Regions from separate parts of the Homo sapiens genome. Here region 1 is linked to region 2. Evidence: fine-mapped expression QTL. Tissue or cell type: whole blood. Region 2 holds a variant in brackets; the other region holds the start of a gene. All regions are shown on one strand. Distances are from middle to middle.

Region 1 (8,103 bases), 44 kb before region 2:
ACAACTGAGATAACTGAGGCACAGAGAAATTAAGTAGCATGCCCAAGGTCACCATGAGTAAGTGGCAGAGCTTGGATTCAAACGCAGCAGTCTGATTCCAGAGCCCAAAGTCCTGAGGCCTCTGCTATGCTGTCTTCACTGTCCTATGCTCTTTTGATGTTTGTTGGGCTAATCGGGACAGGACCCAGTGTAGTGGAAGTGGGGAAGGTGGCTACACTGAAAGTTAAACACCAGAACCCCCTTTGGGGCTCCCCATGTCAGAAACAGTGAGTGGGAGCTGAACAGGGTGAAACTTAGTATCTATGAAGGGGGAAACATGGCCTTCACCTTCTCCAATTCCCGACCTTTGTTTTGTGCAGTGGGAGGCCCCGCAGCTAGACAGCCCTTCCCCGTGAGAAGCGGCGAGGCAAGGGAAAGGCTGAAAGATCCGCCTAGCAGCCCAAGTGAGCAGAGTCGGAGCTAGGACCCAAAGAGGCCGATAGATGGCGCTCATGGCCCAACACAGCTCCAGCAGCCCGAGGAAACAAAAAAAAAAAAAAAAAAACAAGTGAGCCGGTTAACCCCTTCCCTCCCGGGCTCAGGACAGAGGGGCTGGCTGGTGGGTATGCCTGGAGCCCTGCCCCAGGACCGGTGACTCAACTCTCTAGGCTCTTACCCAGGCGATAACCTGGGTCATCTTCTGTTCCTGCCCCACAAGGCTCTACCCGTAAATCACAGTCAGCAGCCTCCTGAAGACTTCCCAGAAGACATGAAGACTAATAAATGGAAGAGACTGGTTGGAAGGGCTGCACCCAAGCCCATGTTTCATCTCTTGGGCTCTATCTCTTGAAAGCCTCAGGGTCCCTGTTTCTAAGCACGCCTACTTCAGGAGAGCGCCTCACCTCCATCTTTCCTGGGAGTGACTCACTGGGCGGGGAGGAATAGCATGGACTAGAGAGAGAGAAGGCCCCAGGCCCCTCTGACATTGGCTGTAGGGACTCACTGTGGGCTGCCTAAGCCTCAGTTTCTCCTTATATCTGGACTTCCTATCTCTGGGTTCCCTGGGGTGGATGGGCTTATAGGGACAGAAACAGTTATTCAAGTCTTCTAGGAAATTGAAATCAGGGGTGGGGAGGTGGAGGTCCTGGGGGATCTCTGCTTGCCTGTTACTCATTTCACTCATTATTGTTCTGCCAGAAGCAGACTTTGAATGTGGAGGGGCTGCCAAGATGACAAACTAGAACAGAAGTGCTGGGCAAGCAAGTGACAGAGGGGTCGGGGTGGACAGGAGGGTTGTCCAAGGGATGGTGGAAATCCTGGAATTTTTAAGCAATGAGATGACACCACAATGAGGTCCCTTCACCTTATTTTTGGTCAGAAACACAGAAATACATAGACACACAGAGATGGGGGAACTTGTTCTAGAAGCTCAGATTCTCTTATTCCAGTCATTCTAGGGTAAGAAGCAGAAACAGGGAGATGTTCACAGAGGGAGACAGAGACCTGCAGATACAGAGAGAAAGCTACACAAGAGACTAGAAATAGAGATAAATTTACATAAGTAGAGAGGGGCAAATAACATAGGCAGAGAGAGACACAGAGAGGGAGAGGATCTGGTAAAAATTAAAGCTCAGGAAATTATGGGCTTCATGAGGTGGATGATTAATTCCATTTCCAAAGTCTTGCAAGGGTCAGGGTAGTTTCTCACCCTTGATGTCAGCAGGTCACTGCTCACAGCTCCCTGAAGCTCCTACTGCACCCATTAAGTTTTTGTTGATAGGAGATCAGACAAGTCCTGGGAAGGGAATAGCATCCTTTTTCTCTCACTTCTTCCTGTTCTGGGGTTTATAGGTCTCCTTTTCTACCACTCACAGGGAGACCTTGCTTCTGTGATTAGAGCCTTGGCTGTGCTAAGGTGTGTGGAGATTGTGGGGTGGGAGGAATATAGAAGATAACTAACCTTAGGGGGTTCCCAGTCTAATGAAAGTTTTAGAGTCACGACACAGAACCAGACCCAGATAGAGCACAAGAACAAAACTAGGAATAGGACAGATTTGGACATAGATATTGGGATGGGGGAATGGTGGGGGAATGGACTGTTAGGTGCAGCCATGGGATGAGGATTGATCAGGGAAGCCTTCCTGGACAAAGTATTTGAGGGAGAAGATTTGGATGGAAGAGTGATAGCTAACTTTATGTGTCTACTTGAGTGGTCTAAGGGACACCCAGATAGCTGGTAAAACATTATTTCTGGATATGTCTGTGGAGTGTTTCTGGAAGAGATTTGCATTTGAATTGGTAGACTAAGAAGATCACCCTCATTAATATGGGTGGGAACCATCCAATCCCTTGGGGGCCAGTAGAACAAAAGAGTGGAGGAAGGCAAATTCTCTTTCTTCATGAGCTGGGACATCTATTTTACCTGCCTTTGGACATCATTGGAGTTCCTGGTTCTTCGTCCTTCAGGCTCTGGGACTTAGCAGTGAGCCTCCTCCCCTGCTTTGGACTTTCCTGAATTATACCACCTGTTTTCCTGGTTCTCCAGTGTATAGACAGCAGAGCGGGAGACTGTGGGACTTCTTGGCCTCCACAATCCTGTGAGCCAATTCTTGGAATAAATCTCGTCATATAGATAGATATCCTGTTAGTTCTGTTCTCTGGAAAACTCTTGACTAATACTGAGGTTATAGGGTTGGGCAGATAGCAAGGCAGAGAAAGAAGTCAAAATGGTGACACTCTGGAGATGGGCTTGGACAGTAATGGGGGATGCCCCTTGCTAAAAAGTTGTTAGGAGCTACCAGAAATGTCTTCGTGGATGTTCTGTATAAGTAATGGCAGGCTGCAAAGGAGAAGTCTCTTATACCCACGGTGGCAGGGGGCCTAGCAATGGTCTTTAGCTATTGTTAATACCTTCAGGTGGGTGAGGGATTGGGGATGGTTGAAGCTTCCTGATTTGCAATCCCTTTGGGAAAATAGTGAATGAACTTTTGGAAGGGCGATGCCCTTTAGGGATAGAACCCAGGATTTCCTAGGTACTTACAGGCTGTGGCTTTTCACTTCTCAAGACTTCCTGATTTAACGCTGATGGAAAGATTAAACTACAATTCCCAGCGATCTTTAGGGCTAATTTAGTGCGCCTTCCGGGATTGGAGCATTTCCGGCGGAAGTGGCTGCGGGTACGCCAATCTCCTTCCCTAAACAATGTAGACTACGACTCCCACTGTCCTTAGCGCCGGGGGTTGGGTTTGGGGTGGGGGAAAGGAACCGGAAACGGGATGGGGAGCTGGACCAGGTGAGGAAGTAGGGGGCTGGGAATCCGGGACTGTGGGGGCAAGTTGACGGCTCCCAGGGTCGTCGGGGCTGAGCCGAGAGGGTGGTTAGAATTTCTATATTTTGGGGTCCCTCCCTCCGTATGGGGTAAGACTCAGTGCAGGGAGAGCCCAGCCTATGAAACCGCCTGGGAGGTCTGCAGGATCAAGGCTTTCCAGTCGGCCGGAGCCAGCGGGCGCCCCCGGAGGTTTTGTATGGTGCCTTAGTAGTCGGCCCCTTTGGAACCAGATGAAATGGTCTTTTTGAGTTTATGCTTTATTATTATTATTGTTTATTTATTTATTTTTCTGAGACGGAATTTTGCTCTGAATTCCAGGCTGGAGTGCAATGGCGCGATCTCAGCTCACTGCAGCCTCCGCCTCCCGGGTTCAAGCGATTCTTCTGCCTCAGCCTCCCGAGTAGGTGGGATTACAGGCGCGCGCCACCATGCCCAGCTAATTTTTGTATTTAGTAGAGACTGGGTTTCACCATGTTGGTCAGGCTGGTCTCGAAGTCCTGACCTCGTGATCCGCCCGCCTCGGCCTCCCAAAGTGCTCGGATTACGGGTGTGAGCCACCGCGCCCGGCCTATGCATTATTATTATTATTATTATTATTATTATTATTATTATTATTATTTATTATTATTATTATTATTATTATTATTTCGTTTAAGGATATTTATTATTGTCCCTGGACTCCCGGAGTGCCTCCAAAGGACAGGGGAGTGCATATGTGATTTCGATTCCTTCCTCACTTCCCGGATTTGATGTCAGAGAAGTCTGACATCAGTCTGAAGTCGGCCCTTGGTGGTCAGCCTTATCGCTTGGTCCAACTCCGCTGTCTTTGTGCTTAATGTAGTATGACACCGTATTTTATAAAATATCTACATTTCTTAAGCCTCTGGCTCTTGGGGCGACTTTGGGTAGAACTTACAAGTTCCTCCTTTGGGTTCTCTTAGTGTTTTGTTCCGGGTATTAAAGCTCACATCACACTGTATTACAGTTAGTTGTTTATTTGCCCTCACAGCAGATTATGAGCTTACAGAAAGCCTGGCCTACATTTTACTCTTTTTGGATTTCTTCCTCATCAAGAGACTGCTGCAGTGCCTGTCATGTAAGAGACTCATAAGTATTGAAAAAAAAAATGAGTTAACAGGTGGTAGGTTGGATGGAGTATGTGATTTTCCATAGAGAAGAGAGTTAAATGAGTTGCTCAAGAGAACCTTCTTAGAGATGAAACAGGAGTAGAATTCAAATCAATTGACTTCCAGCCTGTGGCTCTTGCTATGAGATCAGGCTTTGAAGTTATGGAACAATGAAAGTAGTATCTTGCCACTCTTTTCCCCAGCCTTGCTGTTTCCAACACAGGTGTCTAAATGTCAAAGGTGGGCTCAAGACTTCTCGAGATTCTAGAGCTGGAGCAGCCAATCTGCTAATGTTGGTGTTGCATGGGGAGATGCAAAGCAAGGTCCCCTGAAACACTGGCGTTCTCCACAGCACCCTTCTCAGCTTTTGTATGAGCCCAGTTTGTCCTGGGTAGCCACCTGGACAACAGATCAGTTAAAGACTACTGAGACAGTCAGGGAAGGACTTCCTAAGTTGGGCCTCTGATTTCTTTTCTCTCCCACTTCCCCTAGGCTAGGGTGAGAAAATAGGTTTATCGAGCTGTTGTGTCAACCTTGAGTTCTTATCTTGGAGAAGTCACTCCTGACCCAGGCAGAAAGTTGAGAGGAAGGAATGACAATGGTCCTTGTCGCATGGGAGGCACACATATGATGGGCACAGACCCAGAGTCTGGAAAACAAGCAGAGTGCAAAGTGGGCAGCTAAGCCTTGAGTGAACTCAGGATATAGAAGTGGAGAAGGATCCATCAGGAGTGCCTCCTTGGTAAAAGCTGTTTATTTTATTTTTATATTTACAGATGGGGTCTCATTATGTCAGCCAGGCTGGTCTTGAACTCCTGGCCTCAAGCAATTCTTCTGCCTTGGCCTCTCAAAGTGCTGGGATTACAGGCATGAGCCACTGTGCCCAGCACAGAAGGTAGTTTTAAACAAAAGTGAAAAAGAAGATGGACATTGCTGAGCAGGTGTTTGTTGAGTACCTAATAAGGGCCAGGACCTTGGGCTTATGGAGGGAGATTGAACAAGGCCTGGCTCTTGATCTGCCCAAGTTTAGCTGGGGAGGCAAAAGGAATTCATTAAGACGACGGTAACCATGGTGACACACAGTGGTTCTCAGCCTTCACCAACCATCAGAATCACCCTGGGAAGCTTGTTTAAAATACAGATTCCCAGGCTGGGCACGGTAGCTCACGTTTGTAATCCCAGCACTTTGGGAGGCTGAGGCAGGCAGATCATGAGGTCAGGAGTTCGAGACCAGCCTGACCAACATGGTGAAACCCTGTCTCTACTGAAAATACGAAAATTAGCCGGGTGTGGTGCTGCGCACCTGTAATCCCAGTACCCAGGAGGCTAAGGTGGGAGAATCACTTGAACCCGGGAGGCAGAGGTTGCAGTGAGCTGAGATCGCGCCACTGCACTCCAGTCTGGGCGACAGAGCAAGATTCTGTCTCAAAAAAAAAACAAAACAAAACAAAACAAAAAACACAGATTCCCAGGCCTCACACGGGACCTACTTGTGTTGGGGGTGGGGTTGGGACACTATGGCAAATACTGCAGTGTTCTGAGGAGGGAAGACTTTATCAAAGGGATGGTTTGAGCTGCATTTTGAAGGATGGGAGTGATTTGGATATGTGGACAGGTTGGGGAATCAACAGTCCTAGTTGACTGGATGACTGCTGGATGATGTCCTGGTTGACTTCAGGAGTGTATTTGGTTGGACTGTAGAAATGGTATGTGCAAGGTTTTGGGAGTTGAGGCAGGAAAGGCATTTTGAAAATGTGAGTAGAATGGTCAGGTTGGAACACTGGGTTTGAATGGGAGTGGAGTGAAGCAATGGCCTTTGCAGTTTACAAAGCTTGCTGTCATGTTCCTGCCCCCTCCCTTCTCCTTCCTCCCACCTCCCTTCTCTCTTCCCTTTCTTCTTCCTCTCCCATTTCTTTTCTCCCTTCACCTAAACATAACATCTCATTCCATCCTTACGTCTGTTTGTTTGTTTTGAGACAGTCTCCCTCTGTAGCCCAGGCTGGAGTGCAGTGGCACAATCTCGGCTCACTGCAACCTCTGCCTCCCAGGTCCTGGTTCAAGCAATTCTCCTGCCTCAGCCTCCCATGTAGCTGGAATTACAGGCACGTGCCACCATGCCCAGCTAATTTTTGTATTTTTAGTTGAGACGGGGTTTCACCATGTTGGCCAGGTTGATCTTGAACTCCTGACCTCGTGATCCACCTGCCTCAGCCTCCCAAAGTACTGGGATTACAGGCATGAGCTGTTGCGCCCGGCAAATTTATTTATTTATTTATTTATTTATTTATTTATTTATTTATTTTTTATTTTATTTTTTTTTGAGATGGAGTCTTGCTCTTTTGCCCAGGCTTGAGTGCAGTGGCACGATCTTGGCTCACTGCAACCTCAGCCTCCCGGGTTCAGGCAGTTCTCCCTGCCTCAGCCTCCCGAGTAGCTGGGATTACAGGTGCCCACCACAACGCCCAGCTAATTTTTTTTTTTTGAGAGAGAGTTTCACTGTTGTTGCCCGTGCTGGAGTGCAATGGCACGATCTTGGCTCACCGCAACCTCCACCTTTCAGGTTCAAATGATTCTGCCTCAGCCTCCAGAGTAGCCGGGATTACAGGCACGTACCACCATGCCTGACTAATTTGTATTTTTAGTAGAGGTGGGAGTTTCTCCATTTTGGTCAGGCTGGTCTCGAACTCCCGACCTCAGGTGATCTGCCCACCTCAGCCTCCTAAAGTGCTGGGATTACAGGCTTGAGCCACCACGCCCAGCATGCCCAGCTAATTTTTGTAATTTTTAGTAGAGACGGGGTTTCGCCATGTTGGCCAGGCCAGTTTTGAACGCCTGACCTAAGGTGATTCAGCCGCCTTGGCCTCCCAAAGTGCTGGGATTACAGGCATGAGCCACCATGCCTGGCCTTCCTTATGTCAACATTATTAAGTGGATATTATTATTCTTTGTATTTGAAGGTGGAAACCTGAGGCTCTGGCCATGGTTGTGTAGCTCGTAAGATTCTATGAGGAGTCTGTAATCATCCTACTCGGTATTCCTGAGTGTGGGAAAGAAGCTAGGCTGGGGTTAGGGGGTTGTAGAATTAGCAGGGTGGCTGATCAAACCATCTAAGGCAAGATGGCGTGGGTGGTTAAAGCATAGCCTTGAGCCAGAGAGATTGGGCTCAACCAAATCCAGCTTTATTACTTACTAACTGTAAGACCTTGGGCAAGTTGCTTAATCTTGCTAAGCCTCAGTGTCCTCACTTATAACAGGGGAGCAGTAATACCCACCTCATGGGATTGTTGTGAGGATCAATGAGGTGTACCTGGTGCAGAGCAGTCGCTCACCACCTGGAAGCTATTGTAATTAGCCTTCCCAGGTCTCTGGGCTGTGGCTGTGCACTTGCATTTCATTCTTCAGCGCCGTGCTTTCCAGAACAGTCCATTCTGGCTGGGCTTTTCTTTTTTAGGATGACCTTAAAGGTGCTGAAAGGATGCCACCAGTAAATGTTTATTGAAAACCTACTATGTGCTCGGCATAGCCCAGGAACTAGTGACCTATGCCTGATGGAAAGGAGATTTGGAGTGGGAGATGTTTGGTGGCTATGGCTTATCCTCACCAGGTGCCATGTGAAGAGGACAGATAATGGAAGTGGGGAGGGAAAGGGCCCTTCATTACCAAGAACTG
Region 2 (8,103 bases):
TGTCAGGATTAGAGATAATTAAGTAAAGTATCCAGCACATAGTATGCCTTCTATGCACTGTGCCCATCTGGAGGTAGCACCTGATATATGCAACCTCTCTACTTTACAAAGCATTGATAAATTATTTGTATCAATTTGTATCATTTGATTGTCATGACAACTTAATGAAGGAGCCTGGGTAGGTGTCATTATCCTCATGTTGGTGATGGAAACCATGGTACAGAGTGGCTGAGTGACTTGCCCAAGGCCACACAGCGCATGCCTGGAGCACCCGGGTAAGACAGACCCATAATACCACATGAGAGGCTTGAAGATCTTCCTCTGGGTCTTCTTCCTCCACCCTTGTCAGGCCCCACACCCAGCCACTGGTCCCTGGAATCTAGAGTTGAGTTTGGGGTGCTCAGCAGAGTGGCTCAGCTTCCAATCCTCCTGCAGCCCGGGCCATGCCCACCCTCATGCGCCTCCTCCCCGGCTTGACTAAGAGGTTTTATAGCCGTTTATGAGCAATTTCTGTCCATATATCATCGGAGATATATAGCCAGGCAAATATTAGGGACCCAAGCGGAGGTTTTAAGAGTGAGTTTTATTGCTGCTGAAAGAAGGTGTGATAGGCAGCATGCAGAGACCCACCTTCCCTCTTGCTCGGCGGCCGGGTGGTGGCAGCAGGGACTGGGCTTCAGCTGAGAAAAGCCATCTGTGAAGCTTGCGTGTTATGCCAGCACCCAGGGGTGCGTTGGCGGAGGGTGGTGATGGAAGGGTGGGGCTCTGTTCCTCAGAGAGCCATGCAAGTGGGTGTGGAGGGGTGAAAGGAGGCAAGAAGTCACAGGCTGGTGTGGCCAGCACAGCCTCTCCAAACCTGAGTGGGAAGACACTGAGTTCCAGTGGATTCAACACACAGAAGCGTGGATTGAAGTGAGACAGACTTGGGAAACAACTTCTCCCCAGGGGCCCCTGGGAGAGACTTTGGCAGTGCCTTTTGTTGGAAGTCTTTAAAAACTGGACCGGAACAAGGAGACCCCTGCCCAGAGTTGGTGAGCTGGACAACATGACCCCTACCCTCTTGAGCCACGGCCCCTGTTCTGCTGGAGAAAGCCCTGCAGAGGAGGTCATCCGTGGCCTCCTTTTGGGCTCTGTTCCAGGCCCCCGGCCCACGTGTCCCCTGCCCTCTGTGGGCTTCTGGGTATGGGTGAGTGGCAGAGGGGTAAGGAGAGCCTTCTTGGCTTGCGGCGTATGGAGAGAAGACGTCCCAGGGAATCCTCGCTCCTGATTTAAGCAGCTCCGACAGCTTTATGGTGCCTCCTCGAGTGAGCCCCCAGCGTTGGCTGTTTAACTTTTTAGCGTCGTTTAACGCTTAGACTCTGGTGGACAGGCAGGCCCCAAGGCCCCAGAGGCAGCGGCACTAAATCAGGACACTCTGAGGCCCCGATAAATAATTTTTACAGGGCACGCAGCCCATAGATCACCAGTGGGGGTGGGGGGAGAGTGGCTGTGATATTTCAACCAATTGTCATATGTGACTGCCCCGTGCTCTGACTCCAGGTCGCCCACATGGCAGCCGGCTTCATAACCACAGCCAGCTCTGGGGCTCTTCACTGTGGGGCATGGGAGAGGAGTAGGAGATGGGGCCTTTGATAACCCCAGCCAGCAGATGACCCGTTGCCTCCCCGGGAATGATGTTAAGGTCTGCTCAACTTGCTGTTGTCCATAGAGCATGGGTGCTCAATCCAAGCCTCCTCTGGCACTGGGAGAAGGGACAGCTGAAGGCACGAGGGCAGGGTGGCAGAGAGGAACACAAATAACTTTCTGTAGCCAAAAAGTCACTTTTCTGACCACCTTCCCTGTTCTGTTGACCACCTCCAAACTTGTGGTCTGTGTGAGAGAACAGTACAGAGGGAGGGAGGCATCAGACCTGACCCCAGGAGAGGAGGGCAGAGCTAAGGCTGACGTTCAGAGAAACTGGCAGCATCCCTCTACCATTTATACCTCTAGAGAAAGAGATGGAAAGTGTGGGAGTGTGGAAAGCGGGGGAATGTGGAAGGAGAGAGACAGAAACACAGAGAAGGCTAGGTAGTGAGAGGGACAGAAAAATGAAGATGAAAGACAGATGAAGATGTAGAGAGAACAAGAGACAGAGGCAAGAGGAGACAGACCAAAACGGACTCAGAAAGGACACTCCAACAGTTGGTTTGGTGTGGAGAAGGAGGCCTTTTCCTAAAGCTTGGTACCAAGCAAGAGGAACAGTGGTATCAACAGACCAAGGCAGGGGTTGCATCTGTGCCAGGCTGACCTGCCCCATGCCCTCTGAGGGTGCCCTTCCCCTGGCTTCAGGACCGTGTTTCCCTGCACCAGCTCCACGCTGCTTCCCCACTCTCTCCCCTCCCCTCAGTGCCCTTGCCCCATCCCCTCATCTGTAAGATCTGGGATTTGCGGGGACACTTAATCCATATGGAGCTGATTCATTCCCATCTAAATCATCTCCATGAGCTTCCCTAAGAGCCCTCTGATGTGCCAGCCACCATTCCTCTCCCCTGGGCGATGGCGGGCTGGGGGCTGCCAGTAAACAAACCTCAGCTGCCATCCATCCATCTTGGCCTCGCCCATCAGTCCAGCCAAGACCATTCATCTCTCCAGCACTGCTCCCTGCACTCCTCCATCCCTCCATCCATCTGTCTGTCCCTCCTTCTCATGCCCCTCTACTGGAAACTTTACCTCTCTGCCTTTTCCTGGGTAGCATCTTGAGGGGTCATCTCAACCATCCCCCTGCCTTCAGACAGGAGCCTTATTTTACCCCTGGCCCAGCAAGGCGGGGGCTCTCCCAGTTCATCACCTTCCGAGAATGAGGGCTTCGAGTCTGATGATTTTACTCTACAGTACTGACAACCTAGGGAAGTTCTTTCTTCTGTCTAGCTTGTGTGCTTGACATTCACATATGACCACACGTCTGAATGGGAGTGGGTATAAGATTATAGGATTATACTCAAGCATGAGAGTCTCCAGTATTTGTAATATGTACCTCTCTGGCTTAACATGGTATGTAGAGCTCAAGACCAGTGAAATGGGCCTTTCCTCCAGTCTCCCCCAGCAGAGTCTGGCCCAGTGCCAAGCACGCAGTGGGCGTTCGGTGTTGATTGCTTTCTGGCCATCTTCTTATTTGCCAGTGCCAATGAGTCCAGTGGTCTCACATACATCCTGGGGGGGGTTTTGGTGGGATGACTCTGTGGATCTGATACAGGGCAGATTATGGCACCTCTAGCCTGGCAGGGTTTGCAGTAAACACTAAG[G/A]AAATGTCTCTTACCTCTATTCTCCCACTCAAATTTCTTTTTTTTTTTTTTTTTTTTTGAGACAGAGTCTCGATCTGTCGCCCAGGCTGGAGTGCAGTGGTGCGATCTCGATTCACTGCAACCTCCACCTCCAGGGTTCACTCCATTCTCCTGCCTCAGCCTCCCGAGTAGCTGGGACTACAGGCGCTCACCACAACGCCCGGCTTATTTTTTGTATTTTTGGTAAAGATGGGGTTTCACCATGTTAGCCAGGATGGTCTCGATCTCCTGACCTCGTGATCCACCCTCCTCGGCCTCCCAAAGTGCTGGGATTACAGGCGTGAGCCACCACGCCCGGCCTATCCCACCCAAATTTCTTAACGCAGGCCTGGGGTAGAGCTTGCCTCAACAACTCGCTCTCGGTAATTGTGGGGCTGAAGAGAGGGAGGACGAACAGGAGGGGCAGCAGGTGCTGGTGGGGCCTTCCATGGCACTGAAGCAGAACCCTCGCATTTGGGGGAAACCCTTATGTTTACCTGCACTAATCAGGAGAGTGCATGGAGGGCGCCGCTGTCCCCTGCCCCAGCCTTAGCATTATGGCCCTTCCCTTTTCAGCCTCTTCACCTCATCCTGGGAGGGGTGACTCTGAGAAAGGGGCTTCTGCAAGTCCCTAAGGAGAGAAGACGGGAGCAGGTCTTTGGGTCCCACCTCAGCGTCTCCATGCGCAGCACCACTGGAAGTTGGGGAACAGGGAACAGGTCTGTCTGTCTGTCTCTGGTCAGTAGAGAATTTTGGTCAGGCTCTAGTAACCCTGCAGAGGGATAAAGTGGGTATGGGGGGTGGAGGTGGAGTTACAGGGAGAGATGAGGGCAGTACTTGTGACAGGTGTGTCCTTCCCTGGATCCAGTCATGAAGAGTGGGAGGGAGAGAGGAGAGGGAGGGGAAACATGAACTTTCACGTGCCCTGAGAGAGCTGGTGTTTCACCACTGCCAGCCGCTCCCCGAGACCTGGGATGCCTTGTTGAGCATCTGCCCTGCTCCCAGACCAGACTAGACCAGGCAGGGAATCCCGATGCATGCTTCTCCCCTGTCCCCACACTAACTCCCACTCCCTTTCCCCTTGTTGCTGGTCCCCTGCATGGAGTCACTGTGAGTACACAGGATAGGTGAGGCTCTACAGCTGTTATTGAGTTGTGAGGATCCTTGACCTTGTCCCTCTCACTCCCCTACAGGGAGAGGAGGCTCTAATTGTAGTCAGAAAGATAAGAAGGGTGTCTTGGAGAGGAGAGGGGCTGGGGGGGCCGTGGGGAAGCTAACCACTTGCCCCAGTCGTGTGAAGGTAAGTGTGGGAGGGGAGGGGCCTGCAGGTAGCAAGGCCCAACTTAAGAATGATGAGGTGCTTCTTAGTTCTCTGAGCTATAGACATGTGAAGTATGTAAGACCATGCGAAAGGATAAATTATCACCTAAGGAGGAGAGGACATGGGGGAATAAGAAAAAATTCAAGCCAGGGAGACCCAATGCTACCACCCCCATCACCATCATGACCTGATCCATCTGTGCTGGACTGGATTAAAGTCCATAGGGAGGGGGAGGCCTGAGAACTGGCCCTGAGGTCTTCAGAGGAAAAGCTGATCCCCCACCGTGCATTTGCTTGATGTTACACAGAGCAAGGGGGAGCTGGGAACAGCTGCTCAAATTCTTCAGGTGGGGCAGCCACGGGGAGCTCCCCATCCTCCTTCTTCCTTCCTTGCACCCACCTCTCTCCAACCCCTCCTTCTACCTAGTCCGCTGAGGAACAGTGCCCTCTTCTCCCATTGGCCCGCCTCTCGTGGTTGTCCCCAGCCTCTTGGGCTAGGCCCTCCTCACCCACTCAGTGGCTCCTAACCTCTCTTGTCTCCTCTGAAACTCCTCTTCCTGCAAGAAGCATCCCAGGCTGCTTCTCCCCTCCCCCCAAAAAAAGCCCACTTACCCAGACTTGCAGCTGATGAAAATCCTTTAGGATCCACTCGTGGGCTGCTGCCTTGGGTCCTGCAGGGTCTGGAGATTCCTTTGTTTGTCTGTCCTCTATTGCTCAACATCCACATGTCCAATTTAGGCTGGGATTCCCACAATACAAGTGAGGAGCCAAGTCTTTTTTTTTTTTTTTTGAGATGGAGTCTCGCTCTGTTGCCCAGGCTGGAGTGCAGTTGTGTGATCTCTGCTCACCGCAAGCTCTGCCTCCCCGGGTTCACGCCATTCTCCTGCCACAGCCTCCCGAGTAGCTGGGACTACAGGCGTCTGCCAGGATGCCCAGTTAATTTTTTGTATTTTTATTAGAGATGGGGTTTCATCGTGTTAGCCAGGATGGTCTCGATCTTCTGCTCTCGTGATTCCCGCAAAGTGCTGGGATTACAAGCGTGAGCCACTGTGCCTGGCCGAGCCTGGGGTTTTAAAATCTATTTGACAGCCCTTCTTCTGACATCATGAGGCAGAAATGTCTTGAGGAATGCTGGGAGGTCTTAGACGACCAATGAGCGGGACTGGTACACTTTCCCCCAGGGAAGCCACCTCATGCTACAGCAAGTAGTGACAGAGGCTAGACAATGGGAAGAACTGTAATCTCTTAAAATTGAAGGAAAGATTTCCAGGGTTTCACTGAAGACCTTGAGGAGGAATGACTTTAATCTTTTCAAGCTCTGAGGGAGCAGAGAGGCCTGGGAGTCTGGAAAAGTTTCTGTCCACTCTTGCAGAACTGACTCAAAGAGGGACGGCCACTTTCTTTTTCAAGAGCCCTGACTCATCCACGTTCAGTCCAATTCCACTCACAATTTCTTAGATAATTGTTTCTTTCTTAGACAGAAATTTGGTTCTGGAATTCCCTGTCCTATTCCTCCCATGACCTGGGAACCATCTTTAGGAACCAACTTCAGCTTATGGTGCCAGAAAAACAGAGATGTAGAGACATTTTTGGACAGTCACACAGCAAACCATCAAGGAGCTGGGAATGCCCCCTTATGGATCCTCTTCTCTTCTCTGGATGTGAAGGGAAAGGATATGATCCTAGGGGGAAGGGTGGGGTTAGTGAGAGCTGGAAGAGCACCCCCGCCCAGCAGGCCCAGATCCAAATGTGCACATGATGGAAATGCCTTTATAGCCAAGGGCCCCTCCCTCCCAAAAATAAAATCCCACAATTGGGGAACATCTGGATCAAACCACAGCCATGAAAGCGCAACATCAAACGAGGGTTTCTGAGCGACCCTCCCCGCAGGCCCTGGTCCAAGAGAAATTGCAGAACTTCCTGCTTGAAGCTTTTAAGTGTCACAGAACCCCTCAAATTTGGGATTGCCCCCTATTTGCTGGAGACAGATGTCCCCGAGTGTGGTTGGGCCTGATTGCCCCCAGCGGGATAGAGTGTGTGTGACCTGATCTTACCCCCAGCTAATCCAGGCAGGAAAGCTGTGATGAGGGGCTCCAGCCTTTCAGGCTGGGGGCTGGGGAGAGAGGGGACAGGTGGGCCTTCTGAAACGTGCCTACATCAAAGGTTTGAGTACCCTCCCTTCCAAGCTTTGGCGCCTCCGGCGGGGAGGAAAGCAGTGATTTCACCACATAACTGCACGTAGGGCGGATCTCAGTCTGAGAACTTCTGGGGAATGTGGAGAGGGGAGGGACGGTGCTTCCCAGAGGGGAGGAAAGGGCAAGGAGGGTTCTCGCTTCCAAAATAGCCTACCCAGGCCAAGGAAAACGGGGCCATATGCAGCCTCCCTCCTGCTCTGGCCTCTGTGGAGGGAAAGCTGAGGGGAGGGTGCATTCTTCCAAGGGGGGAGGAGGAGCAGCTATAGCAGGAGGAGGGCAGGAGCCAGATCACAGATGGAGAGCGGTGGGGAACAGGGGCATCTTCCACACACAGGGGCATGAAAGAGGAAGGCTGTAGGGTATGTGAATTCCAGGAGACAGTAGGCGCTCCCCTCCCTGTTCCCCAGGCTCTGTCCTGTCTCAGGAATCATAGAGTGTCTGGTCATGATGCTGGCAGGGTGGGATCGACTGTGGGGCACATGGGTTAGGGAGGCACCCCATATCTGGCTGGAATCCCAGTTCAGATTTGGATCATTTGAGGATGAGTGAGAGTCGGTTGGGGTGTTGACACCCCACTGTAACCTTAGTTTAAGAAGCTAAGGATTTATTGTTGGGGTGGAAGGTCACCTTCAGTTGGGAGGAGTGTAGGGAGAAAAAAGGGGCACCATTTGCATATAATTTTGCTTATAGTTTCCATACTCCTCCCCTTCAGGGAGACTTCCATGACCCTTTCCTTTCCCTTCCCAGGGAGGTTTAGGTGTGTGCATGGTGCTCCCCCGGTGCCCTAGGTGTACCTATAGTCTTGGTTCTTTTCACCTTGCTTTGTAAAGATCCGTGGTTTCTTTCCCCATCCAGACTGTCGGTGCCTTGATGACATGGACCTCCTTGTTCTTCTCTGTGTTCCTAGTTCCCAGCACAGTGCCTGGCAGCGAGCAGGTGCTCGGTGATGCTACCCTGCTGCTGCTGGAGCCCATTCCTCCCATGACCAATGTTCTGGGGGAAACAAAGGACAACCCGTAGGATGGTTCTTTAGCAGCCTGGAGGCCTCTGATGGGCTCTCAGCCTTTCTAAAACTGCAAGGATAGCTCCTATCTGACCGCCTCTGGGAGTCTCCTGGGAGGACCCTCAGTGACAGCACTTTCTTCTGCCCCTGAAACTTATTGCCCATAAGGCTCACCTTCATGGTCAGATATTTATTTATTAGAGACAGGGTCTTGCTTGCTCTGTCGCCCAGGCTGGAGTGCAGTGGTACAATCACAGCTCACTGCAACCTCTAGTGGGCTCAAGTG

Evidence for each region. PIP is the estimated chance that this variant, and not a neighbour inherited with it, causes the effect.
Region 1: SMUG1 starts here. The variant in region 2 is fine-mapped to the expression of SMUG1 in whole blood (INTERVAL, PIP 0.98).

The regions. Positions count from the first base shown.
Region 1 is chr12:54,184,119-54,192,221 of GRCh38, reverse strand. SMUG1 (single-strand-selective monofunctional uracil-DNA glycosylase 1) reads left to right here and starts at 3,237. Exons shown (of 4, transcript NM_001243787.2): 1 at 3,237-3,271; 2 at 4,320-4,403. It overlaps LOC105369777 (a long non-coding RNA gene), which reads right to left and starts at 3,125. Exons shown (of 3, transcript XR_944984.2): 1 at 3,020-3,125; 2 at 1,688-1,774.
Region 2 is chr12:54,139,950-54,148,052 of GRCh38, reverse strand. SMUG1-AS1 (SMUG1 antisense RNA 1) reads right to left here and starts at 5,451. Exons shown (of 2, transcript XR_007063322.1): 1 at 5,232-5,451. The variant G/A (reference allele first, on the strand shown) is at 3,282.